4 separate regions of the Homo sapiens genome follow, and regions 1, 3 and 4 are each reported to be linked to region 2. The links are microRNA targets in miRTarBase. Many come from high-throughput screens and were not tested one by one. Region 2 holds a microRNA gene; each other region holds the end of a gene's coding sequence.
What was found. Region 2 holds the annotated microRNA hsa-miR-4276 (CUCAGUGACUCAUGUGC, at 4,019-4,035, shown strand). A microRNA usually pairs through its seed, bases 2 to 8, with sites in the 3' UTR of a target mRNA and lowers its output. Matches are read on the target gene's strand: a 7mer-m8 pairs with bases 2 to 8, a 7mer-A1 pairs with bases 2 to 7 and ends in A, and an 8mer does both.

Region 1 (7,122 bases), not on the chromosome of region 2:
CTGTTATTTGCTTGCTTTCTGCTGTCATTCCAGCTCTCTCAGTTTTTATTTTCCCCATAGCCTCACTTTGAATATTGACTCCTAAATAAAAGTGGTCAAACTCTCGATCACTAGAGGGTGATGTGGCAAATGCCATCCCATCAACAGATTGACATGATCTTTTTTCCAAAGGGCATGTCAACTTTTTTATCATGACAAGATTTTGTCCAAAGCTAGACTTTGATGGGAGCAGGCAAGAAGTAACATTTCCTGTGTCCCTACTATGTGTCAGACATCTTCTGTAAGTCCCCACACTATCCTGGCAAGAAAAGCATGATTATCCCAGTTCTATAGAAGAGAAAGTAGGGTCAAAGAGGCTAAGGAACTAGCCTGGGATCACAGATTTTTAACCCTAGTCTGTCTCCAGGATCACCCGCAGGAGTAACTCAGCTCAGGAAGCAGCTGCTGACGTGCCCAGCAACTCCTCACCCCAGCTTTCTGGCTTGGTTACTCCATTAGTCCCCACCAGCACCACTTCCTCCCAGCTCTTAAAGATTCTATTCCCAAGTCCATTTCTTTCACATCTAGAAACTTAGGCTTCTTTCCTTCCGTTACTTCCAGTGCTGGCTGAAGATGCAATCAAGGCCGCCCTGGCTGATTACAAATTGAAACAAGAACCCAAAAAAGGAGAGGCAGAGAAGAAATGAGCCCTCCCTCGGCGAAGCCTCCAGCAGGCCACACCAGCTGTTTCCCACCTGCTGTGCAGTCACCTTAGATGTTCAGAAGCCGCTTCCTCTCCACTGAAGAGCTATGAGATACGCACAATACTTGCTGTTCACGTTATGACTCTCATGCAAGCAAAATACACAGTTTCATTGTTCTGAATCCTGTGGTTTCTTTCAGCCCACTTTTATCGCCTTAACCTAGTTAATGTATATTTTGAATTGTGTGTATGACCTCAGAACTGAAATTGATAATGAAGTTGCAAGTTTTGATAGCCCGTGAAGTGCATAAGTATCTAATTTTACCTGAATTGATTTGGGGGGAAATTACCAGTAGAATGCCTTGGTCTGAATATTTGATAGAACCAATTGTTGTACATAAAACAGATTGCGCATATATATATATGTATAAAAAATAATAAAATAATGGAAGATGATGGTGTTCTCTAGTAAGCCTTGTCTCTTGGGCCCATCATTCACCCTGAAGTGGTGCCCAAAGCCCCTTGGGGTTCCCAGAGGTTGGACCGCAGTGACATACACAGCTCTCCAAGCAAACAAAGACAAATATACGTAATATTTTTTGGAACAAGGATGAAAGGAGATGATTATCGCTTGTCATTGTTCTTTGTGTGATAGTAGTTGAAAGCTCAAAGTAAGTCTTGAAGATTCTTTCTGTAATTTCACTGGTTGCTCAAATCTAAAAAGCATTAGCTTGGCACCCTAAAGCGGTAGACCAGATACATGAAGAGCACCTCGGGAATGAGTTTAAAATGCGGATTTCTAGGCCCAAGTTTCTGACTTCTGTCTGGGCAGGTAATTCCAGAGCCCCTGACTTTTAAGAACCTCTTGGGTTTTTTGTGGTCGTAGATGAGCCAAACTTTAGGGAAGAAACTTCTGAATGCTGTGTTCTGCATAGATGTAGTATCTTAAGTGGTTCATTCTGAACTATCTGTACCTGCATAGTACACCTAAGGTTGTTTAAAAAACATTCATCCAGCCGGGCGCAGTGGCTCACACCTGTAATCCCAGCACTTTGGGAGGCCAAGGCGGGTGGATCACGAGGTCAAGAGTTCAAGACCAGCCTGGCCAAGGTAGTGAAACCCCATCTCTACTAAAATTACAAAAATTAGCCAGGCATGGCGGCACGCACCTGTAATCCCAGCTGCTCGGGAGGCTGAGGCAGGAGAATCACTTGACCTGGGAAGTGGAGGTAGCAGTGAGCCAAGATCACACCAGTGCACTCCAGCCTGGGAGACAGAGCAAGACTCCGTCTCAAAGCCAAACAAACAAACATTCATCCCTGGCTTGGGCATAAGTCTAAGCACGGGCCCTCCTACCCTGATGTCTCCCTATTTTTAGCTACCCATAGTCATGCAAATCTCAATAAAGGATGCCCTATCTTCTAGTGAAAATGGGTTATTGAAATATTGACTGCCATAGTCTCAAATGTTCAGCTTCAAAAGTAAGATGTGTTTGTTTTTTCTGGTGGTGGTTTTTTTGTTCAGGTATAGGCTGGCTGCCTCTTAAATATACCTCCCTTGTTTTTTTTGTTGTTTTTTGTTTTTTTGTTTTAATGCTCTGGGTTCTGGTGGAGGGCACAGAACTTCAAAGACTGTTCCTTCTGTAGTCTGTGAAGGCAGCCACAGACCAGGGCCTTTATAGGAATCTCAAATTAGAACCCTGGGTAGAACCATGTAAAATTGTCCTGTGTGGCATGTTCTGCAATTTAATTCACAGTCCCTCTAGACTGAGCTTGTCTCTCCCTTCTTTATTACATGTGGCACCACCACAATTCCCCACCACTTTTCTTTGTGATTTTTTTAATTTAAATGAGACATTTCTGTCCCAGTGAACATCCTCAGAGTTGAACATCAGGAGGAGCTTATAAACAAAGCAATATTCCCAGAAGAGCCCAAGTCTCTAAACGTGGTTGTACTGCTAAAACAAATGGATATTTTTTAAATTCACATTAAAGACACTCTTTCCCCAAACAAATCTAGTTTGAGCCACATGAGGGCATCATGTGCCCTTCAGTGAACTCAAGTCTAGGGGTTTTTGCAGCCTCCAAATAGGTCTTAGCATCTCTAAATAAACCTGTCCATGGAAAACCTCCACAGATAAGTTAAAATGGTCTGTCAAGCACCTGTGCTCTGTTCCAGGCCCTTACATCTGTAATCCTGTTAATTCTCATGACAGCTGCCTGCAGTGGGCATTGATTCAAACAAGGACACTGGCTCAAGAAGCCAACTGACCCTCAGGCCAACTGGCTTGATCTGAGTGACCCAAAGCCCATTCTTCTGCCTCACCCCTCCTGGCAGAACACACCAGGGATTCAAACTGCACATCAGAGGCTCACCTGTGCCTTGAACATTCAATGAAGAAGCTGAACCAACACAGGTTGAGCCTGATGCATTCTCTTGGCCAACTGGCTGCCAAGCACCATGGCCCTCACGCCAACCCTGGCTCCCACCAGGAGCCTAATTAAATCCTGATGCCAAGTTAAATCCAATGCTCTGGAGGTGGGGCCTGGGCACTGGCATCACCTGATGGGCTGGGTGGGTTTATGGGCAGATGGATGGATGGGGAAGCAGAGGCTCCGAGAGGTGAAATGACTTGCCTCAAGGCACACAGCTAGGAAGTGGTAGAATTGAGCTCTGGCTGAGGTCTTCTGCCCACCTCCCACCCTCTCCTGAGTGCCACACTACAGCTATGACCACATCTCGGATGTAACCTTTCCTAAGTGTGATTCCTGGACCAGGGCCACCCGGGACCACATCCAAATGCACAGTTCTAGAACCTCACATTAAGCATTGTCTTGTAAAAACTACTTGGCCCTAGGATGAATTTTCTTAAAAAGACAAACAAATGAGGCACACTTCTCGATACTTCAGGCCCTTTGAACTTGAGGCAAGAGTGCAGACCTTGTGTCTATCTTCACGACAGAAGAGAAGACTTCTAGGTCCCACCAAGTTTTGGTGGTGTTAGAGGGCCCCTACAGATGAGTTCCAGCCCCAACCAAAGATGGACGTGGAGCACATCCCCTGCCAATGGCTCTTGGAGGCCTGTCTGCTTGCTTTCCCCACCCCCCGAGATGACATCAGCCAGCCCCTCAAAAGGCCACCTCCCCAGAGAAGATCATCTCCACCCAGGGAGCAAGCAGCAGGGCAGAGTGGAGTGAGCTTGGAGTGTTGAATCAAATGCTGGCTACCGCTGTGTGACCCTGAGCGAAAGGCTCAACCTCCCCAAGCCTCAGTTTATTCATCTGCAAAATGGGAAAGATAATAGTACCTACCTGATCAGGTAGACCTGACGATTAAATGAGATAATACATGGAAAGCACATGGCACACAGAGTTCACTGTTGGCCAGGTACAGTGGCCCATGCCTATAACCCCAGCACTTTAGGAGGCCAAGGCAGGAGGATTGCTTGAGCCCAGCAGTTAGAGACCAGCCTGTGAGGCAGGAGAGGTAGTCAAGGAAGTGACCATGTCCTCGAGATGCAGCATCCGTGATGACTGTACAGTCAACACAATAAGCCTCAGCATTCACATTGTAATTGAGCAAAGCTCAAGCAAAGCTATCTTCAGTAGGGACTTTCCCCTCTAGAGAGTGTGCGCACTTTGATTTAGCTGTCCTCAAACTGACCCTTTGCTCATTAAAAGAGTAAAAAACACACCCCTAGGTGGAGATTTAAGATGCGAATGAGACATGCAATGTATGAACAAGCACGTACAGCTACTGTGCGTGGGCACCGAAAGGACCACCCAGAACATGCTTACTAGTAACACCTCTCTCAACCCCTTATGAATAATGATGTAAAACCCCCACAAAGGGAGTCTCCCAGCAATAATCAATGCTGTCCTTAAGAGCAGCCTGCCCTAAATCCTGTCTCTCTCAGGGTGTCCTGTCCTTTCTGTACCTAACTTTCAAAATGTTCTTTTTCCTCTGCAATAAATTACTCTATGCTGCACCTCCCCTTTGCTGTGTGTCTCTTGTCTATATTCTTTTAAACTAAGAAGGCAAGAACTGAGATCTTGCAACAATTGTCAATACTTGGGCAAGATGGCAAGACCCCATCTCTACAAAAAATAAAAAAACTAGCTGGCTGTGGTGTCGTGCACCTGTCGTGCACACTACAGTATCATGCACCTGTAGTCTCTGCTACTTGGGATACTGAGGTGGGAGGATCCCTTGAGCCCAGGAGTTCAAGGATGCAGTGAGCTGTGATGGCACCACTGTCCTCTAACCTGGGTGAGAGAGTGAGACCCTGTCTCTTAAAAAAAAAAAAAAAAAAAAGAGGAAGGAGAAGAAGAAAGAAAGAAAAAGGAAAAAAAAATAGTTCATTGCTGTTATGGTGGTTCTCATTATTACAGGTAACACTTCAGCCCTGACTACATACTAGGCACTGTTGCTGGGTGTTTTATATAGATCAGCTCATTTGCCTCACAAAAATCCTAAAGTACTATCAATATCCCATTTTACAGATAGAGAAACTAAAAGGTAAAATGATGTGTCAGCAAATGGTAAGATCAAGATTCTAGCTCAGAGCTGTTTGATCTAGAGCCCAAGCCCCTGCATGCTATGACTGTACTTTCTCTACTGCTATTTTCACTATTACTATTTGCATTGGTATTATTACAGGCACACCTCAGAGATGTTGCAGGTTCGGCTCCAGGTCACTGCAATAAAGTAAATGTTGCAATAAAACGAGTCACACAAATTTTCCCAGTGCATATAAAACTTATGTTTACACTAAACTGGAGTCTGTTAAGTGTGCAATAGCATTATATCTAAAAAAAAAAAACCCAATGTGCATACCTTAATATAAACATAGTTTGTTGCTAAAAAAAAATGCTAACAGTCATTGGAGGCTTCGGTAAGTCATTATCTTTTTGCTGGTGGAGGGTCTTGCCTCAATTTTGACAGCTGCTGACTGATCAGGCTGGGAGTTGCAGAAGGTTGAGGTGGTTGTGGCAATGTCTTTTTTTTTTTTTTTTTTTTTTTTTTTTTTGAGATGGAATCTCGCTCTGTCGCCCAAGCTGGAGTGCAGGGCTGCGATCGATCTTGGCTCACTGCAAACTCTGCCTCCCAGGTTCAAGCAATTCTCCTGCCCGAGTAGCTGGGATTATAGGCATGTGCCACCATGCCTGGCAAATTTTTTTTATTTTTAATAGAGATGGTGTTTCGCCATATTGGCCAGGCTGGTCTTGAACTGCTGAACTCAGGTGATCCGCCCTCCTCGGCCTCCCAAAGTGCTGGGATTACAGGCACGAGCCACTGCACCCAGCCATAATTTCTTAAAATAAGACAACGCTGAAGTTCATCACTTTGATTGCCTTTTCCTTTCACAAAAGATTTCTCTACAGCCTGTGGTGTTAGTTGATAGCATTTTACCCATGGTAGAACTTCTTTCAAAATTGGAACCTATTTTCTCAAACTCTGCCACTGCTTCACCAAATTTATTTCCTTCCTTCCTTCCTTCCTTCCTTTCTTCTCTCTCTCTCTCCCCTTTCTTTTTCTTTCTTTCTTTTTCTTTCTTTCCTTTCCCTTCCTTCCTTCCTTCTCTCTCTCTCTCCTTTCTTTCTTTCTCTTTCTTTCTTTTTCTTTCTTTCCTTTCCCTTCCTTCCTTCCTTTCTTTCCTTCCCTTCCTTATTTTGAGTCAGAGTCTTGCTCTGTTGCCCAGGCTGGAGTGCAGTGGCACAACCTCAGCTCCCTGCAACCTCCGCCTCCTGGGTTCAAGTGGTTCTTGTGCCTCAGCCTCGCAAGTAGCTGGGATTACAGGCGTGCACCACCATGCCCAGCTAATTTTTGTATTTTTAGTAGAAATGGGGTTTCCCCGTGTTGACCAGCTGGTCTCAAAGTCCTGTCCTCAAGTGATCCACCTGCCTCAGCCTCCTAAAGTTCTGGGATTACAGGCATGAGCCACCATGCCAGGCCCACCAATTATACTTATGTAATGTTCTAAATCATTTATTGTTCTTTCGACAATGTTCACAGCATCTTCACTGGGAGTAGATTCCATTTCAAGAACCATTTTCTTTGTTTATCCATAAGAAACAACTCCTCATCTACAGACTCTAGTTCTAATTCTAGTTCTCTTGCTATTTCCACCACACCTGTCGTGTGGATTCTCTCTCTGTCGCCAAGGCTGGAGTGCAGTGGTGCGATCTTGGCTCACTGCAACCTCCGCCTCCCAGGTTCAAGCAATCCTTGTGCCTCAGCCTCCTGAGTAGCTGGGATTACAGGTGTGTGCCACCACACCTGTCTAATTTTTGTATTTTTAGTAGAGATGGGTTTTCACCATGTTGGCCAGGCTGGTCTCAAACTCCTGACCTCAAGTGATCTGCCCGCCTCCACCTCCCAAAGAGTTGGGATTACAGGCATGAGGCACCGGGCCCAGCCAAAATGTGTTGTTTAATTTT
Region 2 (7,122 bases):
CTTTTTTTAAGGCAGTTTACTTATTTGAGAGAAAGAGACATGCTATATTCATATAATATATCTGATGTATAAAACTCATAAATAAGGTTTGCCTTACTTTAAGACTTAGATTTATTGGGGGAACCAGATATCCTAATGACTGTCAAGTTTTAAATTTTATGATTCCTCTCTCTGTCTTAAATTCCAAATCCACATTTCCCTGAATCTACTTAACTATATGATTATGTCTCACAAGCAGTTCACACTCAATGCATAGCTATATGTATTATCTTGCTTCCTATATACAAGTGAGTACAATCATTATAATACAACTTTCTAAATGTCTACTTTAACCTATTTTACAAATCTGAAAAATCATAATAATAACACCTATCTTCTAAATTTGTGAGAATTATATGAACTAATATGTGTACAGTGCTTTGTAGAGACCAGCGATTTTCAGAATTATTTTTATTGCCCCCTTTAGCAACGTGTTCTTGGTTACTATATTTATATTTCCTTCCTGTCTCTCAAATTTTTTTCCATCTCTCTTCTTCTTCCTGCCACTTCCTTGGTTATGTTTTCTCATCTACATTATTTCACAAACCACCTACCTTATCTTTTGGCCTGCAAACCAGACCATACCCTGTATGCTCAGCGTATCCTCTACGCTGCGGGAAGAGTGACAGCAAGAAAGTTAAATGCTGATTTTATCACCATGATTCTTCAAAATCCCTCAACTCTTTGCAAAAATAAAAGATAACACCCATTGTCGGTAAGCATGCTAGAAAATGGCATCTCACATGCCATCATAGGCATGAAAATTGACATTTTTTCAGAAAGCGACTTGCCTCTATACCAAACCCTTTCAATAGTACTTCTTGCTTGACCCAGCAGTGCCACTTACATGTATAATCCTGAACTAAAGGAGAAAATGTGCTCTGGATTTCTGGCAAAGCTTCCTTTAAGAGCAAAACCCTTTTTCAACAAGTGGTCATACGCTAGGAGAAAAACAATAGGAAATAATAATAATAAAAAAGAGAACTACCTTTACTGGTGCCAAGAGTAGAAAACAACAATCACATACCATAAAATCAAGGAAATATCATCCAAATCTAGGGAAAATTTAATTATCCAGAAGGCACCAAGACTGAGAAAAGAATGCATCATTGTGGAAAATAAGTGGAGAACATTTTGGTGACAGTTGGGAGAAGTATCGTTGGTCCCAGCTGACTTGGGGGACAGTCTCATTTGCTGCCCATGGCCTCAGATCAGTATCACTGCAAGGCTGTTAGAAGCACGGCTGTGGAATAAAGCATGTAGTCAAGCCACACAATTCTTTGCTGACAGAATTTGAAGTAGGTTTAATTTTCTTCTCTATGTTTTCCCCATTTTCAAATTTCCAAAGATGAAAAATTAATTTGACAGCAAAAAAACAAAAAACAATAAAAATAATGGTGGCTTCTTAATTCCTTATTTTAATGGGCAAAGTTATTCCCTCTCTGTTTATACTCCAGATATTCCACATGTGCTAAAACATTTAGAAATCTTCTAAAATACGATATGTTCTTTTTCCCTTCCATATCTTTGCAACTACTTTCCCCTGCAACCGTCTAGGGAGTTCCTTGTAATTATATGTCACTCAACTGAAAATTTACCTTCTTTATGAAATATTCTGTGATGTCTGTGTGCATGATTACATATTTCCACTTTTGTGTTCCCACTGTACTCTGTCAGCATCTAAGTTGTGGTACTCACCACACCAGTAAATTTCTGTGTACATTTCTCTCTCCTGTACCATGAGAGCTCTAGGACTGCAGGAATTGTTATTTTAAACTTTGTATGGAATTTAGTAAATGCTTATTGAATCAACTCATAAGAAAATTGGATGCTAATATTTTACTTTCTTCAGTTTCCTCATTGGGTTTAGTGGAGAAATTTCTCACAATATTGCCTGAAGGACAAGTTTGAGTACAGGTACATTATTCTTACATATTTTTTCTTTTTATATTTGTCATTATATGTCCATTTCCAGTGAATAAGTGTTTAATTACATTTGTTCATTCCATATTCACATTCCATTTACTGTTCAGAATGTGGAGATCATGTTTCTTGTGTTTGACTTGCTTCACACATGGGAGAAGTTGCATGCATGTGAATTCACTTAAATTATTTCACAAAGCAGAAGGGCACGGTGGCTCATGCCTGTAATCCCAGCACTTTGGGAGGCTGAGGTGGGTGGAACACTGGAGGTCAGGAGTTTGAGACCAGCCTGGCCAACATGGTAAAACCCTGTCTCTACTAAAAATACAAAAATTAGCCAGCATCGTGGCACAGGAGCTGCCTGTAGCCCCAGCTACTCAGGAGGCTGAAACAGGAGAATCGCTTGAACCCAGGAGGCAGAGGTTGCAGTGGGCTGAGATCGTGCCACTGCACTCCAGCCTGGGGGACAGAGCAAGACCATGTCTCAAAAAAAAAAAAAAAAAAAATTCACAAAGTGATGACTGCATTTTCATTCCATCAAAAATAAAAATTATTAGAGTTACTAATTGTATTATTTATCAGATGTGGAAGCAAAAGGATTTTCAATTCACTGTGCAGAGGAGGTATGCTTATAGAGACTCAAGAAAACAATCTGATTGTTTTAATTTTTCTCTAAGCTCGCCTGCCAAAAAAAGAATTCTGATCTGGCTCTTAGATTTTAGTAGATTAAATTTATGGAAAACAGGAATATGGTCCTATGCAAAATGTTCCGGTAAAAGTTTTTATGCTGATATTGAGTGAATTTTAAGCTTATTTAGTCTAAAGTAAAACACTAAGTTTTTTCCAGAACCTCAACTAAACCCAAATATTTGGAGAAAAAAAAGGAAGCAAAAACAAATGTTCAATTGTATGACAGAAGTTAATTTCAAAAATGAATGATGAAAGATGTTGACTTTTTTCTGTTATAACAACATATAACATATAATATTATAGCAGTAATATTATAATGACATAATTGTTTTCATTTCTTTTAACAAAATCATTAAATTGGTCCTTTCCACGCTTTACTACAAACTCTTTCAATTGTCTTCCATTTCTTTGACAAGCTAGAAGGGTCTAGATGTTTCTCATGTGGTGAGCCCTGTCAAACACTTTTAAGTTTGCATTTTTTTCCAGATAAATGTAACAATACCCATAAATCACACTTATTTGGATTCTTATCTAATATTGCATTGCAATAATTGGAAATAAGGCAAAAGCTTTTTGGAAGGTATGCAACACTTTACTCTCAAACCTCAGATAAAATCTAAAACCTGTGTGAGACTAAACTGAAAAGAGGAAGAGGGAAAGAAGGAAACATATTCAATGGAGGACACTGTGCTAAAATGTAATTTTACATTTCCATTGAATCCTATTTTATCAAAACCTGCATTTTTAGTTTTAATTTTGATTCATAGTGTGATTTGGGAATCATTGAAATGACACATGTTAAAGATTACAATACAAATAACACAATTTGCACTTCCAGTTTGCAGAATTTCCGATTTGGCAGTTTGCCAGCTCTTTGAATCTAAGAGAAACAGGGAAACAAAATTTCTGCAGAAGTGTTACTTCTTTCCAAAACATGATCCAGACATTCATAGAACCATTGAATTCGCTATTGCTATTCTGACTACCGGAGAAATACAACCTTTTTGCGTGTGTGTGTGTGTGTGTGTATATGTGTGTGTGTCATGTGACATTTGGCATTGGGGCTGGTGGAGGAAGATAAAACAAAACTGCATGTCTTGCCTGTTTTTCTGTTGAGTCTGACATCTGAGGTGTAAATTCAACAAAAATTAGACATCTCCTTAGATAAGATGACTCTAAATAAATATTCTATTTATAGTTCTCTGCTGACATAAATATAGCTTGCTTAATCATGCACGTATCCTGGAATATGTGTAAAGCCAATTTTGCTAAAGTGATTAATTTGTAGACTGTGTATTTTTTCTTATGTGTTCCTTGAGTCAATGAGTTAAATAATGGGATATGCTGTGGGCATGTCACAGTCTGACTCAGTGACTCATGTGCTGGCAGTGGCCACGTAAATAGAGCTACTGTGTCTGAAAGCAATGGGTAGCTAGAAACCTTTTTGACAGCTCATATGAAAACTTAAAGAATTTCAAAACAGGCTGGGTGTGGTGGCTCATGCCTGCAATCCCAGTACTTTGGGAGGCTGGGGTGGGAGGATCATTTGAGCCCAGAATCTTGAGACCACCCTGGGCAGCCTCGCAAGACCCTATCTCTGCATGTAAAAACAACAACAAAAAATTATAATAGTAATAAAAAAGAAGTTCAAAACGAAAAATATTTGCAAGGATTTTGTTTCTGGGTTTTTTGATTTTGTTATTAGATTTTTAATTAAAATAGAATAAAAACCTGAACTTCAAAATCAAGATCTGCTTATTTGGAAATTTTGTCTGTTACTCAAGTCTGTCCTTTTAATTTTTCAGAATAAATTAATATTATCTATTTCTAGATCTCCTACATTGCAGTTTCTTCCAGATTAATAACAGTATATTTAAAAATTATTTTTCAACAGAGCAGTGTACCTTTGCCAGGCTGTAGTCCGACATGATAAGATAATGGAATCGTATGTTAAGCAGACTATCATCTTGATTCCAAGAATTCATCTAGGAAAATTACTTAACAATTGATGATTTTGAATTATTTATCCTGAGAGATTTTGCCAAATCCCAAAGTAAAAATCATTGGAATTACTAATAGTACTAGCAAGCATATGTACTACATAGGGTGCTAGGAAACCTACTAGCTTTCTAGCCTTGTTGACTAGGTTTAGAACCTCACCTCTGCCAGTTACAAACTACAAACTGTGTGAAGTTAGGTCTAAGTTCTTTACCTTCTTTATCTTCAGTTCCTTATTTATAAATAGATAAAGTACTAATCATACCTATAGGATTTTTTAAGATCAAAAAACAGAATGCTATTTTTAAAATTTTCCTTACACCATACCTAGCATAAGTAAATCCTCAATTTATAGTAGTTTCTGCTATATTTTTAAGCTCATAAACAAAAGGACATGTTGCAGTTACACCTATTAATACTAGATGGATCAATAAAAACAGGTATTTTAGCAAATATAAAACTTCAATAATGAAAATCATATAATGACTGAAGAGTGTTAGTTTTATGATTTTTTTTCTTTTCTTTTATTTTCTTTTTTTTTTTTTTGGAGACAGGGTTTCACTCTGTTGCTTAGGCTGGAATGCAGTGGTGCAATCACAGCAGGGTCTCACTGTGTTGTCCAGGCTGGTCTTGAACTCCTGGGCTCAAGTGATCCTCCCACCTTGGCCTCCCAAAGTTCTGGGATTACAGGTGTCAGTCCCTGTGCCTGGCCAGTTTTGTTGTATTATTGTTGTAAACATTTTGGCAATACTGGGACAACTTAATTTATCAAAAATCAACAAAATGTTTTAAGAGCTCTGTATTGTTTTTGGCTCAATTAATTTGGCTTAAAAGCAAAAGATTGAGTTACCTGGATATGTTTAATTCTACCATAAACTTATTTCATAAGGATCTGTGGGGAAGCTTTGTAAATTTTTGTTTCCAGTTATCTAACTTCAGAGATTATTTTTTTAAAAGGAAAATATCAGAATTTTCTATTTTTAATAAAGTAGAACAAGAATTTTTTAAACGTTTTATTTTACCATAATTTCAAGTTTTACAGAGAGATTATCCGAATAGAACAAATGATCCTCATTTTATTCTTTACCTAGATTCACAAATTATTAACATTTTTGCTCTGGTTGCTTTATCATTTACTCTCTTAATAAACATTTTTTAACCTTTCGAACAGTGTGTGTTTCCTAAGAAAAACACATTCTCTTGAATAACTAGTAAAATTACCAGAGTAAAAAAATATATATACCATTTATATAATAGGAATACCTCTTCCAGAGCCAATATTCAAATTTAGTCCATTATCCCAACAATGTCCTGTGTTTTTTTTCCTGGTCTAAAATTTAACTCAGTGGTAAGAATTGTGCTTAATCATCATGTCCCTGGAGTGTTTTTAATCTAGATTAAATCCTCAGTCTTTTCCCTTATAACCTTGGCAGCTTGGAGAGTACCTGTTATTTTGTGGAATGTCACTCAGTTTGGGTCTGTCTGATATTTCCTCTGTTTAGAACCAGGTCATGCATGTCAGATAGGGAAACAGACATGAGACTGTACTCTTCTCAGCACATCACATCAGCAGGCAACATGATGCTGGTCTGTCCCATGATTGGTGATGTTAGCTACGATTGATTGGCTAAGATGGTTCTGCTAGGTTTTTCCACTGCAAATTTTTTATTTTCCCCTTAGTAATTTATAATTAATTTGTGGAGAGATACTTTGAAGATACCTAAATCTTCTTTATTCCCCAAACTTTGACCTACTCATTTAAGTACTCATTGATAATTTTTGCTTACATCAATTTTTATTGTAATAGTTCCAAAATGGTGATTTTCTAAGTCTACCATCCCTTCTACATTTATTAGCTGACATTCCACTTAAAGGGATAAGATTCCCCCAGTACTAATTTAGTTTTTGTTCATTTATTTAGATTTGGATGGATTAATTGATTCTTAGAGAACTCAATGATTAATAATCCATCACCAGGATTATTATCAGGACTCTTTGAGCTATCTCTTCCTGGGGTTGGCTTTAACTCAATTGTCCCTTATCTTTCTTGTGCATTTTTTCAGAACCCCTTTTCTTTGTGGGAATGACTTCAGAAGAGCTTCGAAAGTTAGCTATGCTGGAATTTGGTGCTTATTTTTATACCTATGGGTAATTTTCACTTGTAATATTTTTCTGTCTTCTAATTTTGCCAAAGGTGAGAATTTTGTGTGGTTTTATTCTTGTTGCTTAGAGGTTGTTTGAGGAGATTTGGGTTCAGGCAGCTGTTATTCATATACCTCAGCTGCTCAGGACTCTTGGATGCAAAGACTTTCACCATCTGGCTTAACAGTTCCTTTAACGAGGAGGAATCGTCTTGTTTGTAAACTAACGTGAGAAACTATATTTCAGTATAATGTGAAAACTTAACAGCATGGGTTATAAGAAAATAAAAATGAAGAAGAGCTATATTCTTTGTGAAAGTGATGAACAAAT
Region 3 (7,122 bases), not on the chromosome of region 2:
CTTTCCTTTAAAAAACAAACATAATCTACACTGCCTGCATTCTTTGTTTCTTTTTAAAAATACCACCCAATCAGAGAAGAGGCCTGCATTCTTTTTACATGTATTACTTTTATAATGAAAATATATACCCAGTTCTGTGTTATAAATTGCAGTCTGCAATGTTCCACATATCCACTGAGTCAAAGAAACGCTATTAAGTACTGGGAATCCAGCAAGGGAGAACTGTCACCCAGCTAACCCCAAAAGAGAACATTGACAAAATGCTTTCAGTAGAAGCAAAATCCTGAATTGCAATGTTGGGATTTGCATTCTCATCAACAATCCTGCGTGAGGCCAGCATCCCAGGATTATCTGGATTAGTGTGTATGAGGATTATAGAGGTGCACTCCAGACACCTAGTAAACATGTTCCTGTCCTCTGTCCTGGAATGACTGTACACTGTTTACTGGAATTCAGTACAATCTCACCTGGGCCCAGGCCTCTCACACCCCCTTTAAGGTTGGCGATCTTCCCTAACCCTTCAGCCTGGAGGGAAAGGCTGGACCTTCTGGGCCCTGCCGTTCCTTGCTGTCTGCTCTCGGTTGTTTCTGTGCGACTCAACTCTGAGTGACTATGAGTCATTCTTTCTAAGAAAGCCTCACTATTGAACTGAAATATGCTTTGGCCTCACAGAGCTGCTTTGTTTCCTTACAACCACAACATGGGCATCAGTACATTTTAAAGCATTTCCTCAAAAAATCAACATTCATGACAAACTGGAATTATATTTAGGTCTATGTTGATATGTTCATGAGCTAAACCTGAAAACATTTTTATCAGTCAGCCAAGTTCATTAACTAGTGTACTGAGCTGGAATTTAAAGGACACCCTACCACTGGCTCACAGCTCTGCACCATCACCGAGAACAGAAACCACATCGGATTCAGAGTCCTACCTCGTGCTCTTGGAACCGGATTTACAGAATGTCTCAAACCACAAGCTTCCTTTTCTGGACACTGGCTCCGATAAATAGGATAAGAACCTTTGCACCGCTCCTTAGAGGGCTGGGATGGATCCCACAGGAGCAGTGCCTGGTCCCTGGACCACTAGCTTCCCAATGCACACATGCACTGTTGGCTGCTGGCTGGCTGGCTTCCAAGCCTCTGCTAGTCAAAGCTCTCTCTCCCACTTCCCTTCCTTGACCAATTTCTGTTTGGAGGACACTGCTTCCAAGAAGTTGTCTGTCTCCCCATCTTGGAGAAGCCAAGGCAGCCTGCTAAGCAAATCTCCTTTTAGCATCTTCAGATTGACAGATTAATGGTACTATGATACTTCCCTAAGTTTGATTTCAATTTTACTAATAATACGTGGTTTTTTTTTTTTTTTTTTTGAGATGGAGCTTCGCTCTTTTTGCCCAGGCTGGAGTGCAGTGGCACAATCTCAGCTCACTGCAACCTCCGCCTCCCAGGTTCAAGCAATTCTCCTGCCTCAGCCTCCCAAGTAGCTGGGATTACAGGTGCCCGCCACCACACCAGGCTAATTTTTTGTATTTTTAGTAGAGACGGGGTTTCACCATGTTGGTCAGGATGGTCTCGATCTCTTGACCTCGTGATCCACCCGCCTCAGCCTCCCAAAGTGCTGGGATTACAGGCGTGAGTCACCGCACCCAGCCTAATACTTGTTATCTTTTAAACAGAGTCAGAACAGGCCAGGCACAGTGGCTCACACCTGCAATCCCAGCACTTCAGGAGGCCGAGGCAGGTGGATCACCTGAGGTGAGGAGTTCGAGACCAGCCTGGCCAACATGGTGAAATCCCATCTCTACTAAAAATACAAAAATTAGCTGGGTGTGGGGGCACACGCCTGCAATCCCAGCTACTCGGGGGGCTGAGGGGAGAGAATCACTTGAACCTGGGAGGCAGAGGTTGCAGTGAGCTAAGATCGCGCCACTGCACTCCAGCTTGGGTGATAGAGTGAGACTCCGTCTCAAAAAAACCCCAAAACCAGTCGGGACAGGTAAACTAAAGCAAATTGGTGACACCTGCACTCCTACAGGAAGAGACCATTCACCTGGATTACTTTATACCATGACACTCTCCCCACCTTTACTATGTAAAACAGCTTAATCTCTGAACTAACAGGGCAGGGGGATCCTGCAACACACTGAATCCAGATGTGATTGGATGGCCTAAGTAACCCTTCTCAGGAAAAGAAGTTGCTTCTCAGCCATGCTGTGGACAGAGGGGCCCTGCAGAAGGAGCGGCTTCTCTGATGGGCAGAGAACCCACAGAGGCAGGGACAACTGGCATGCAAAATTAAGAGACAGAAGGAACACAAACCCTATGCCAGGAATAAAAACGAAATAAAACTCAGTACTCAAAGCACCCAAACTCTGGAGGAAACTCGAGTCTCAACCTCCCCATTTCCCCTGATTCCATCCTGCAAAACTGTTCCCTCCTTTCCACTTAGTCCCATCCCTCTCTTCATGCCCCAGTCACAATCTGGATATACTGGGTTTGGAAGGATGGGAAAAATGCTAAGATAATCCTACTGTGGAAAATATATCAACACCCCCAAAGCAGGAACCAGCTTTGGTGTTGTACAGTCATCTTCCCAAACCTAGCTAATCACAACTACCTGTGGGATCAGTAAGATTCCTAGGACCTACTAGAGAAGGGGTCCCTGATCCCTGGGCAGCAGAACGGTCGTGGTCCGTGGTCTGTTAGGAACCAGCCTGCACAGCGGGTGAGAGGCGGGCTGATGAGTGAGCATTACCATCCGAGCTCCACCTCCTGTCACATCAGCAGCAGCATTAGATTCTCATAGGGTTGGAAACCCTATCGTGAGCTCTGCATGCAAGGGACCTCGGTTGCGCACTCACTGATCATGCCCGATGATCTGTCACTGTCTCCCATCACCCCCAGATGGGACCATCTAGTTGCAGGAAAACAAGCTCAGGCCTCCCATTGATTCTACATGATGGTGAATTGTGTAATTATTTCATTATATATTACAATGTAATAATAGAAATAAAGTGCACAATAAATATACTTGAATCACCCCAAAACCATACCCCCTGCTCATCTGTGGAAAAACTGTCTTTGGTGAAACCAGTCCCTGGTGCCAAAAAGGTTGGGTTCTGCTGTACTAGGGAACTTCAGAATCACTCTCTGGGCCTGGGAATCTGTACTTAAAAATGCTCCTTGGTAGATTCTGATCAGAGATTTGTGAAGCACTGACAGAGAACAGGATGAAGCCCTAACTCCTATGTGGTAATGTTTCCACAATGCTGATGTGCTACAGGAAGTAAGTTCCCTTTATTATTAATATTCCCAAGCGGACAATTTCCTAAGTAGTAAATTTTTTTTTTCAAGTTGGCAGGAAATAATTTCCCACTTACTGTCTTTCCATGTGGAGGGACTTTAGCCAGTGTTTCTCAGAGTAGAGGAGCACTACTGCACTTTGGGTTGGACAACTGATTGTGTGGCACAGCACAGGACATTTACCATCCGGGCCCTTACTTTTAAATACCAGTGGTGATCCCCAGTGATTGTGACAACCAAAACACATCCCCTCACATTCCTCAGTACTCACGCACCACTTAATGATGTTTTGGTCAACGATGGACTGGGTATACAATGGTGGTCCCAAAGATTATGATACCGTATTTTTACTATACTTTTTCTGTTTAGATATGTTTTAAATACAGAAATACCACTGTGTTATGACTGCCTACAGTATTCAGTACAGTAACATGCTGTACAGGTTTGTAGCGAGGAGCAACAGGCTACACCATATAGCTTAGGTGTGGAGTAGGCCATACCATCTTCATTTGTGTAGTACACTCTCTGATGTTCACACAATGATGACATTGCTTAACACATTTCTCAGAATGTGTCATGGCCGGGCCTGGTGGCTCATGTCTGTAATCTAGCACTTTGGGAGGCCAAGATGGGAGGATCATTTGAGCCCAGGAGTTAGAGACCAGCCTGGGCAACGAAGTGAGACCTCATTGCTATTTAAAAATAAGAACATGTCGCTATTATTAAGCAACAGATGACTGTGTTCCTAGGATGTCAGGTAACCCCACCGAGAGCCACTGTGCTGCACTGCTGTTCCCGACCTCTTGCCCTACCATCACATGAAGCCCAGCTTTTGGAGCGAACTGTTTTAATAGACAGATTCTGCATCTTCTTCATGCGTCTGCCCACAGGGAGTGTGTTCTGGCTGCTGTTTCCAGCCTGGCCTGTGCCTGGGTGGCTCAATCTCCTCATGTCACGGATCTGATCTCAGAAGTATTTTATTTACACACAGGAGGGGAAGGAAGGGGCTTTTAGCTTTCCCTAAACATCTGCAACAATAACTCAATCTTAGAAATAAAGTAACTGATTTATAGTTATTACAGGGAATACAAACATTATAATTCCGCTCTTCCATTTAAAAGATTCCTTTCATTATGTTCCTACTGAAACAGAATGTTACTATTTAAAGAGAAAGAACTTTGACGAGCATTTTTTATTGAACAGTTTTATTCTGTTTTAGAATAAAAACTTTGCTTTAATATTGTAAGGGGTACTGCAGGTATGCCATGCTGCCAGTTATTGCTGGGGCACAAAACGCCCCAGTCAGTGATTCGGAGGGCTGGGAAAACGCATAAACTCATAATTTCAGAGCAAGTAGAACTAGTATTTACAGTTTTCTTTCTTGAAATTGGCCCGGGACATCTCCAACAGTCTACACATGTATTGCCATGGTACTTGCTCTGATGCTCTGAATGCCTCGGAACTGTGTTCAATATCATGATTTGTGGGTCCTCTAAAAGGTTTTGTTGTTAACATGCAAGCAAACAGCACTGAACAATATTGTCTAAACTATGGCTGCCAAGTACTGGATCTTCATAATGAAACCAAATTACAAAACACTGCCTTGTAGAGCTATACAAAAGATATAAAATGAAAATAAAAAATGTCAACCAGCCTTAAATATTCCAATTCTCCTACAGTGCAGTTTCTATATCTTTATCACTACTGAATGTTTTAAGGAGAAAGTTAAGAAAACAATCAAAATATTAGATAAAAATATTTAAATCTTTGGATCCTTTTATTCCATGGCCTTCATAAAAACACAAAAGTGGCCAGATTTTTCCCACTAGAGCTTAAAATATCAAAAAGATTCACTAGTAATTTATAATTAGCAATGAACTCTATACTGAGTCATCTGTGGGTCATCATAGGCCCAAGGACCAGTGTTGCCGTGTGTTACAGGCTACCAAAATAATTTCTAGCACTCTGAATCCTCTTGAAATATGATGGAATGAGTCAAGGTATCATGACTAAATTCCAGGCATAATAGGAAAAACAGGTTCATTGATGCCTAGTTTTAAAGTCCTACAAAAGGGGGGAAGATTACTTATTTGAAAATACAGCTAAGTACATTCTCATCTGTGATTATTTACATTTGTATACTGAAAATATCGATTATCTGGACAGATCCTGTGATATGCCATTTGCTACAAAATGAAGTTCTTACAATGAGCATGAATAATTAATCCTTTTTAGATAATGAAATAATGTATCAAATCTTCATTTATGTTCCAAACATTAAAAAACAAAATCAAAAATGTTAAGCCTGGAAAACTAAGAAAAAAAGACCCACCCATAAGGCTGCTGCTCAGCACATCAACTTCTGCAAGGACACAGTATGTTTGCTGACTTTAAAATGTTTATTCTTTAAAAAATTAGTTGCTTTTTATACAGCTATACAAAGTTCTTAATGTTTCTTTGGCAATGGAATATAATGGAATTTTACAACTATATAAAAAAGTTACCTTTGCCTAAGAAACAGTATTTACTGTGTGTACATAGTTGACTGACAAAATTCTCTACCATCCAGCACCCTAATTAATTGACGAAATAAGCTACCTCATATTACAGGATTCCCCAAAAGAAAGGAGGAAAAAGACACACACATACACACACACACACACACACACACACACACACACACACAACCTTCTGTGGCTCAAAACACAGTATCACGGCCCTATCTGCAGGCAACTTGCAATTGCCAAATACAATTTAGTGATAAAAAAAAAAAACCTTTCAGTGATGAAAAAATACTTGTTAAGTCCCACTGAAGTACTGCTTTAGTTTAACTATACATAAGAAATTACTTAACCTTCTGCTATTCCAAATATATTTAATGCTCATGTTTTAAGATGAGCCTTCCACCCCCAAAAGTAACTGCATTTTATCTTTGAAATTAAGCGGAAAAACAAACAAAAAACAAAAACCCAGTGCTGGTGACAAATGTACAGCGAATTCACTTCTTCATTCTTTGCAAAGACTGAAATCAATGTTCAGGACCATGAAGAGCTAGAAATTCACCTATTTTCAGAGACTTGTTTGTAGACTATGCAGCAACTTTGTTGTCTTTCTAAAAAAGAAAAAAAAATTTAGCTCATGTTCCAAATTATTGGTGTATTATTTTCTTTTTACTTTGCTCAAGTTTATTTTAAATTATCTTTAAATATACTCCCCCACTTTTACTTTCATAGAAAAACCTGTCTCACTCATTTCCACGAAACTCCTTCTATAACTTCCATACTCAGTAGTACCTCATTGTTGACTGCATCTTCCAGTCAGTAGAGGTTAATGCAGTGGTGAACCCCACCCCAAAATACAGGCATACTTCCTCATCTTTGGTTGTTCTCCCTAATAATTTTTTAAAAGCAGTGATAGGACTTAAACCCTCAACTCAATAGTCAAACTCATCAAATACAACTGTCAACATACTTTGAAACAAGTTTCATAAAATCCCCAAGTCTTTGATGTCTTTACTAAGCAATAAAATACCCAGTCAGTATAACATTTCTCTCCAAAATTTCATGCCAGGAGGAAGCAATGGTTTAAAAATCAATTTTACAAGGATAACTCTTAAATCTGAAATAAGCTCTGAAAAGTAGAAAGCTGACTGGGGAATTTTTAAAAAGTAACCAGTGAGGAAGCAATAAAAATCTCAAGATTTCCAGAGAGACTGACCCTAAACTAAAGGCCTGTACAAAGGGCTGGAGCCAAGGGCTTTTATTTTCCTCTAGACCAGCTGCTACCATATACCTGGTTTTTACTGCTGATTCTCACCCCA
Region 4 (7,114 bases), not on the chromosome of region 2:
AGGAAGGTAACCCCGTAGCTGGAAGACAGAGGTGGGAGGGAGAATTTTTGCTTTTTGTGCCTTTAGAATAATGTATCATGTGAATGTGTCATTTAGATTAAGGGTTGGTATACTATGGTCCACAGGCCCAATCTGTCCCCTGCTTTTTAAAAGTTTTATTGGAACATAGCCATGCTCATTTGTTTACATATTATCTATGGCTGCTCTCACACTGGAATGGCAGAGTTCAGAAATTGTAATCTGTATACCTAATGTCATGGACCACAAAGGCTAAAATATTTACTGACTCTTTACAGAAATGATTTGCCAACCTGTCTAGATTTTTTAAAAATAGAAAACTGACATTAAAAATAAAAGATGCCCCAAGATAATTGAAAACATATCTACACAAAAATCTGTACATCAATGTTCATAGCAGCACTAATCACAATAGTCAAAAAGTAGAAACAACCCAAACATCCCTCAACAGATGAATAAACAAAATGTGATATACCCACACGTTACTCAGCTAGAAAAAGGAACAAAGTACTGATAAATGCTACAGCACAAATGAACCTTGAAAACATGCTAAGTGAAAGAAGCCAGAAACAAAAGGCCACATGTACAATTGCATTTATATGAAATGTCCAGATTAGGCAAATTCATAGAGATATAAGGTAGGTCAGTGGTTTCCCAGGGCTGGGGAGAAGAGGGAATGGCAAGTGACTGCAAATGGGTACATGATTTCTTTTGGGGGTGATAAAAATGTTCTAGAATTAGATAGTGGTTATGGCTGCACAAATTCGTGTATATGCTAAAAACTGCTGAACTGTATACCACCACCAAGTACAGGGCAATCCAGAGTTCAGTACAGGGCTCAGAACCTAGTAAAAAATTAGTCCTCTCTGCCACTGCAAATCAAAATCAAACCTGGCCTGGGAGTCAGATCAAGTTCTGCATCCCAATTGTTGCGAACATCCATGTGACCTTAGACAAGTTTCTTCCCTATTTCCTTCCCTATAACATGGGTATAATTGAGCAGGGAGGGAGAAGGCTGGTGGTGCAATAGGGTGTGAGGGGGGGATTTTGTTCTTTCCCCAACTTTATTAGATACCCTAATAATCAGTATCATCATCATCATCATCACCCATTTCTAAGCATTTTCACATACATGATGTCATTTGATCTTTCCCCTTAGAAAAGACACATATTGTTTCCATCTTACAGATGAAGAAATCGAGGATCTGAGAGATCAAGCAGCTTGTCCACGTTCATCCAGTGGGTGTTGGAGCTGAGATTCGACTCCAGGTCTTCTGATTCTAGATCTTGTTCTGCCTACACTACCACACTGTTTTTGCATGTTTGCATTCTCTCTAGAAAGCCCAAAACAGCAGTGTCCAGCAGCCTCACCACAAACACTGTACACCTTTATCTGGGCAAAGGGAGGAAGGAGAGGCAGAACCTGGGGTTCTGCTGGTTCTCTTTTATCTTTCTTATGAACCTCTATATTGGCACAGTAGCAGTCTGTGGGTAGGAGTATTCACGCACATTGATGTGGACACCAAGCCCACATACATCACAGAGAGAGACACACAGGTACACCTGACCTCAACAGGCAACAGGTCATACTTGTTACTAGGGTAGTGAAGGGGCTATGCTTTTTGTTTAGGGGAGGCCCAAGAGGTCAGAACTCTAGGCGTCTGCTCTCCTTTCTAATACCAGGAGACCCATCTCTCCCAAAGGCCTTAAGGAGGAAGAGGTGGCTCCTTAATCCTTAGTAGAGAGGAGTAAGGAGGAGGGAGAGAGGAAAGTATCCTCGCTGTCCTTGCTAAACCAGAGCCCCAAGAGAGGGAACATCAGGGATTCACTACTAAGAGATCTGGGCCTACATCTTAAAGAGTATCCATGAGACCCTTGCTGCCAAACCCAGTTAAGCCTTTGTGCATCACAGTGCTAAGTTCTAGTAATGCCACCAGCTACATGGGCTTTGCCACTCACCTTCTCTGATTCAGTTTGCTTATCCAAAAATGTGTCTAATGATTACTGAGTCTAGCTCAGGGGGGCGCTCTCAGGTTTCAGCAACATAAACTGAAATGCTTTAAAAATAAAATGCACTTTATGAACACACTATTTCATCCTCCCATACTGCCAAGCAAGAGTGGCTCAGGCACTCTTGCTTGAATACACCTGGGAGTGACCCTCTCACGCCTTTCAAGGTGGCAAGGCTTGGGCAGCAAGGAGAGCCGTGCCTAAGGCAGCCATTCTCTTCAGAAAAGGCAAGGCTGCCCTGGGGCACCAGGCCTGTCCAGGCTTGCTCGCACCCTTCTTTTTTCATTTGAGCAATCTGTATGTATCAAACACTTCCTACAGGACAGGCACTGTTCTGTTTACTTGAAGATAAGCAGTTAAGAGAAAAATGCTCTCACAGAGCTTATATTCTAGTTGTCACAGGCCAGAAAGTAAACAAAAAACAAATATGTCAAGCGTTGGCAGATGCTACGTGGAATTAAACTGGGTAAGGATAACAGCGATGGGGGAGAGGTGCTATCTTGCACAGGATGTCAGAAAGCCTCTCTGATAAAAGGATGTTTGAGCAAAGACTGAAAGGAGGTGAGAGAATAATTTAGCGGGGAACCACACCTTAAATCTAGTCTGGAGGACACTAGAGTTCAGGGAACAGAGATCGACAGTGCCACAGCAACAAAGAAGATTCCCTACCATGCTGGTTATTATCCATTTGCCTCCCTTAGATTGTCACCACCTTGCCCTTTCCTGCTGTTCCCAGTGGGGAGGGGGACTGAACCCTACAGACTGCATCCTGGGTCTGCCTTGTCATCTGCCATTTGGTTGGGTTCAGTCAAAGGGGGTCCCCAGAAGACTGGAGAACAGGATACAAGGAGCAGGGATATTGATGCTCCTATGGGCACAGTTCTAATAATGGCTGCATTGTTCCGAGAGAATTCCACAATTTCCATCTGCTTTCCACAGTCCCTTCAGTGACACATGCTCACATACTTTCCCATCCTGGGCCCCGAAAAGTGGAGGCTCATCTCCTCCAGGAAGCCCTGCAGGATTAGTCTTCCAGATGAGCACTGTGCACCTACCTGTGCAGGAATGTGTTGTTCACAGATGCCACCTGGACTGCCTCTTTCATCAGGGAAGAAAGTAGATGAGCTTTGGCCCTGGAGACACTCATCCCTGATGAAATGTGAACTGTGGCCTCACTCTCCCTCCCAAAGCTCCAGCTCTGTCAAATTACTCACGACAGCTAAAGCAGTAACAGAAGTTGGGGCTCTAGAGTCTCTCAACTTAATCCCTTAGGACCTCACTGCCCCAGAGGTAGAACTTCTCCCCAAGATCAGCCAACCACCTTCCTAACTGGAGGAACCCTATCTACCTACCTCCAACACTCAATAGCTCATTGCCCAGTTCATTTCCTTGATAACACATTTATCACTATTGGAAAAAGTTGATCAGTGTGTGTATGTCTGCTCTACACATAAGAATGTGTATGTCATAGAAGCCTAGAACTTACTTGTCTCATTCTCCTCTGTGAACAGCATCCTAGGCCCAAGCATACAAGAACTCTTAAATATTTTTGAGTAAAGAAATAGTAACACAAAGAGGGCAAAGCACCTCTGGCTCCCTAACACCTCCAAGAGAATTGCAGTCACACGATGGTGGAGTCAGGGGTGGGCAGACACTCTCAGAAGTCTTGGCACTGCTGATTTCTCGAGTTGTGTGTCTGGGCAACAGAGGATTCAGAGAATCACTTAGGTTCCACCAAAAGAGGTGCCATCTTTCTAAATATCCCCAGCTTTCCATTTCTGAGTGGCCAGACCCTTTGCTAAATAGTCTCCAGGTTCAGGAAAGCCGAGAAGGGAGGAGTATGAAAGATAAGAGCTTTGGGCAAAAGTTGAAGCAGCAAAGCTCAGGCAGGTCCATGACGGCAGCTGGGAAGGTAGCAGTTACTATCCCAAAGACACAAAATATGATTCACCTGGCCATCACCACCAAGGAAGGCAGAACCCAGGAGCCCTTAAGGGTGAGTGCTGCTGGTTAGTTTTCCTCTACTTAAGGGGCATAAGCCTAGGCACAAATAAGTGCTGCTACAGGCCAATCAGTATCTAGTGGCTGGTCTTCCCTTCAGTCCCCATTCTATTCCACCCTGGAGACTCTCCACCCTCACCCACTGTGTGGCACCACTGCCACCATGCCAACCCCTCATCCCCAAAGAGACCCAAACAGTGCAGAGGTGCATCAATCAACCTTTAATGTCCAAAAGAGGCGTGGATGCAGAGCATAGGAGATGTGGCAGGGTCTCAGGCCCTGCTCCAGAAATGAGGGAGAGATGAACACAAACCAGACACTTTCAACTGGCCACACAGTCTGGGAGGGCAGGGGGAAACACAGATTTGGACATTCATAAAAAAATAAAACCTAAAATCAAGCACTCAATTTTGTGCCCACTGAAGGGTTTGATAAAGGGAACTCAGTCACCACCCAGGTCTCCCCTCCCCTGCCAACATCACAAAGCAAGCTCGGCACACACTAAGGGCTTAGGGAGGGGTATTCTCCTGCCTCCCCACCAGCCCCAAGAATGGACTTGAAAATAAAAGAATAAGCTGGATCCCCCACCCCCCCACATTGTCAACCCTACACGAGAGTTTTGAAGGCGACTCATGAAAATCAGCAGCTCAAACGGCAATGACCACCCCACCCCAAACCCCACCCCACTCCTATTTCATTAACAGACAAGATTTCCCCTGCATCCTCCTCAGAATCTCCTCCTCTCACAGCCCTGCTCCATCTCCTATGTCCTGGCTTCACCACTGCAAGACTGACCTCCTCCAAGGCTCCCAGAAGCTCCTCTTAGCTCTTTATCACTTCTATCCTCACCTCCCACCAGAGACTGCAACCATCCACAGTCACTGTCCCTCTGCACTGAGACCCAGCTCCAGAGCAGATGGCAGCATGGTCATCCTGTCCTGGGTGGTCCTCCTAAAGCCTTCCCAGGGAGCAGACAGCCAGAGAGCAAGCAGAGTGTCTGGGCTAGATGACAGCAAGGAGGGGACACCTATCTTTATTTTCAAAACAGATATCCCCAGAGGCTTTTAGCATAAAAGCCCACTTAGAACTAACTGTGCCCCCTACCTACCCATACACCCTAGAGATTCCACACTGTCCTGCCCCCTCCCTCCCTTCTACCCCAAACCCCACACACACATACACACACATATACACACATATTCACACATATACACAGAAGAGTCAAGGGAGACATCAATTTGGTTTGATTGCTAAGACCTAACTAAGGAACTACAGTCACCAGAAATTCCCTTGCCAGCCAACTAACAACAGGGGCTGCTCTAAGAGAACTCCAGAGGAATGAGGAAACTGAGGGCTAAGCAGGGAGCAGACAGGAGAAAAATGTAAAGAAAAAAAAGATTCAAGCTAATCCTACCCCAGCATCCTCCTGTCATGATCTCTGGCAGGAAGAACAAAAGAAGGTAATCCACAAAGACACAGCCCTTACTTAGAAATTCTGACAAAGACAGCAAGACAAATCTGCTCCCCACTCCCACACACCACAGACAAACACATCTCAGGGCCCCTAAAGAAGGCATCCCCACCCCACCCTCCGCCCCAAGCCATAGAATCACAGTTCAGTGGAATATTCTCCCTGGTACTAGATCAATCCCTCCACCTTCCTTCCTACCCCTTTTTCCTTGACAATCCCAACACTGTCCCCCTGCAGCCTCCCTGGCCCTCCCAAAGCAGCATCCACCGCCAGGAAGAGGCAGCTGCACAGTTTTAGTTCCACCTCCAGAGACCTATTTCTTTTCCTCAGCCCTCCTAGTCTTTCGGCCGCCTAGTCTCTATGGTGGGCCTTTTATTTTGTATAGGGAAAGAAAGAGAAAAGGGAGAGGTGGGAGAGATTTCCTAGTGCAATACAACCAAAAAATATTTTTAAAGTCTTGAAAAATAAACATAAAGCAGCCTTCTTCCCCCAGGCAACTAAACAGAAAGAGGTTTGGTTTTGTTTACTGCGACATACACATGAAATCGAGTATACAGTCCATGCAGTAGCACAGCCATTGGAGAGGACATCCTGATGCTGGCTCCAGTGCAAAACAGTCCCAGCAACGCCGCCTGCTTGCCATCGCTGCCGCCGCCACTGACACCTTCACCATGGCCACCTAGCCTGACTTGAAGAGGAGGATTGCAACTTGACCCAAGTAAAAATAGATGAAGTGCTTTGTCTCGTGTGTGACGTAGCTGCCAAAATTTCGGCCCACGATACAATGCCAGGTAGGGTTATATTTCTTGTCAAATTCCTAAAAAAGAACAAAGGTAGAGAAGAAAGGTAATTAGGGTAGCTGGAGAAGGAGAAATCAGAATGGGAGTCTCTCCCTGCAACTCCAGCACCGACACGTTTGGTTGTTATCACCCCCACCCCATCCCTCAGCCTCAGCTCCCCGAACCTCAAAAGCTCAGGTTTTAAAGCTGGCCAGGACACTCTTCCCCTCATTAATAATGGAACACCACAAAGCCTCCATTATTCGTCTCCCCTGAGCCTCCAGCACTCTACACCCTGATCATCTCTCCTCCCTCTAGCTACCCCACCCCCTCACGCCACCCCTAGCCCACCCTGGGATTCTTCAGCAAGGGAATCAAGAGGCCAGTGGAATAAAGGACCATTTGTCAAACACATGACACAAATGGGGAGCCACCACCCGCTGCCTCACACATAATTAACCAGCATTTCCAAATGCTAAACACCAAGGCATTAGAGCAAAACAAGACCAAACATCGGGAGTACCAGGAGGCACTACTATATAAGACAACATTAAAGGCATTCCCGTGTGCCATGCACTGTGTGGGCTGTATGTACCAGAACAAGGACCTCCACCATGAGATCAAGGCAATTCCCTAAGGGGCACAAGTTCAGCATCAAAACCACAGGAAATCTTTAGAGCTAATCAGCTCCCTACTACCTTGTGGCTCAGCCTGCAGACTCAGTTCTAGAAGCATCCTGCCATGGCCATGAAAGGGCAGCAGCCCTCCACCATGGGCCCACCAACGCTGCCAACTCTGGGGTTCTATCCCTCAATATGCTCAACATACAACTTCT

Region 1: miRTarBase lists ISCU as a target of hsa-miR-4276. Seed matches in the 3' UTR shown: 7mer-A1 at 778-784.
Region 3: the mRNA of LSM14A is a reported target of hsa-miR-4276. Seed matches in the 3' UTR shown: 8mer at 6,080-6,087 and 7mer-m8 at 4,605-4,611.
Region 4: the mRNA of DYNLL2 is a reported target of hsa-miR-4276. Seed matches in the 3' UTR shown: 7mer-A1 at 5,645-5,651 and 8mer at 2,972-2,979.

What each region holds. Positions count from the first base shown.
Region 1 is chr12:108,568,231-108,575,352 of GRCh38, forward strand. It overlaps ISCU (iron-sulfur cluster assembly enzyme), which reads left to right. Exons shown (of 5, transcript NM_213595.4): 5 at 601-1,138. The coding sequence ends at 686. Among named protein-coding and RNA genes, the nearest start is that of ISCU, 9.2 kb to the left of the region's middle. RefSeq lists an enhancer at 706-855.
Region 2 is chr4:174,419,787-174,426,908 of GRCh38, forward strand. MIR4276 (microRNA 4276) reads left to right here and starts at 4,009; the gene lies at 4,009-4,078.
Region 3 is chr19:34,226,657-34,233,778 of GRCh38, reverse strand. LSM14A (LSM14A mRNA processing body assembly factor) reads right to left here. Exons shown (of 10, transcript NM_015578.4): 10 at 4,491-6,414. The coding sequence ends at 6,391. Among named protein-coding and RNA genes, the nearest start is that of GARRE1, 24 kb to the left of the region's middle.
Region 4 is chr17:58,088,345-58,095,458 of GRCh38, reverse strand. It overlaps DYNLL2 (dynein light chain LC8-type 2), which reads right to left. Exons shown (of 3, transcript NM_080677.3): 3 at 1-6,317. The coding sequence ends at 6,180. Among named protein-coding and RNA genes, the nearest start is that of DYNLL2, 8.5 kb to the right of the region's middle.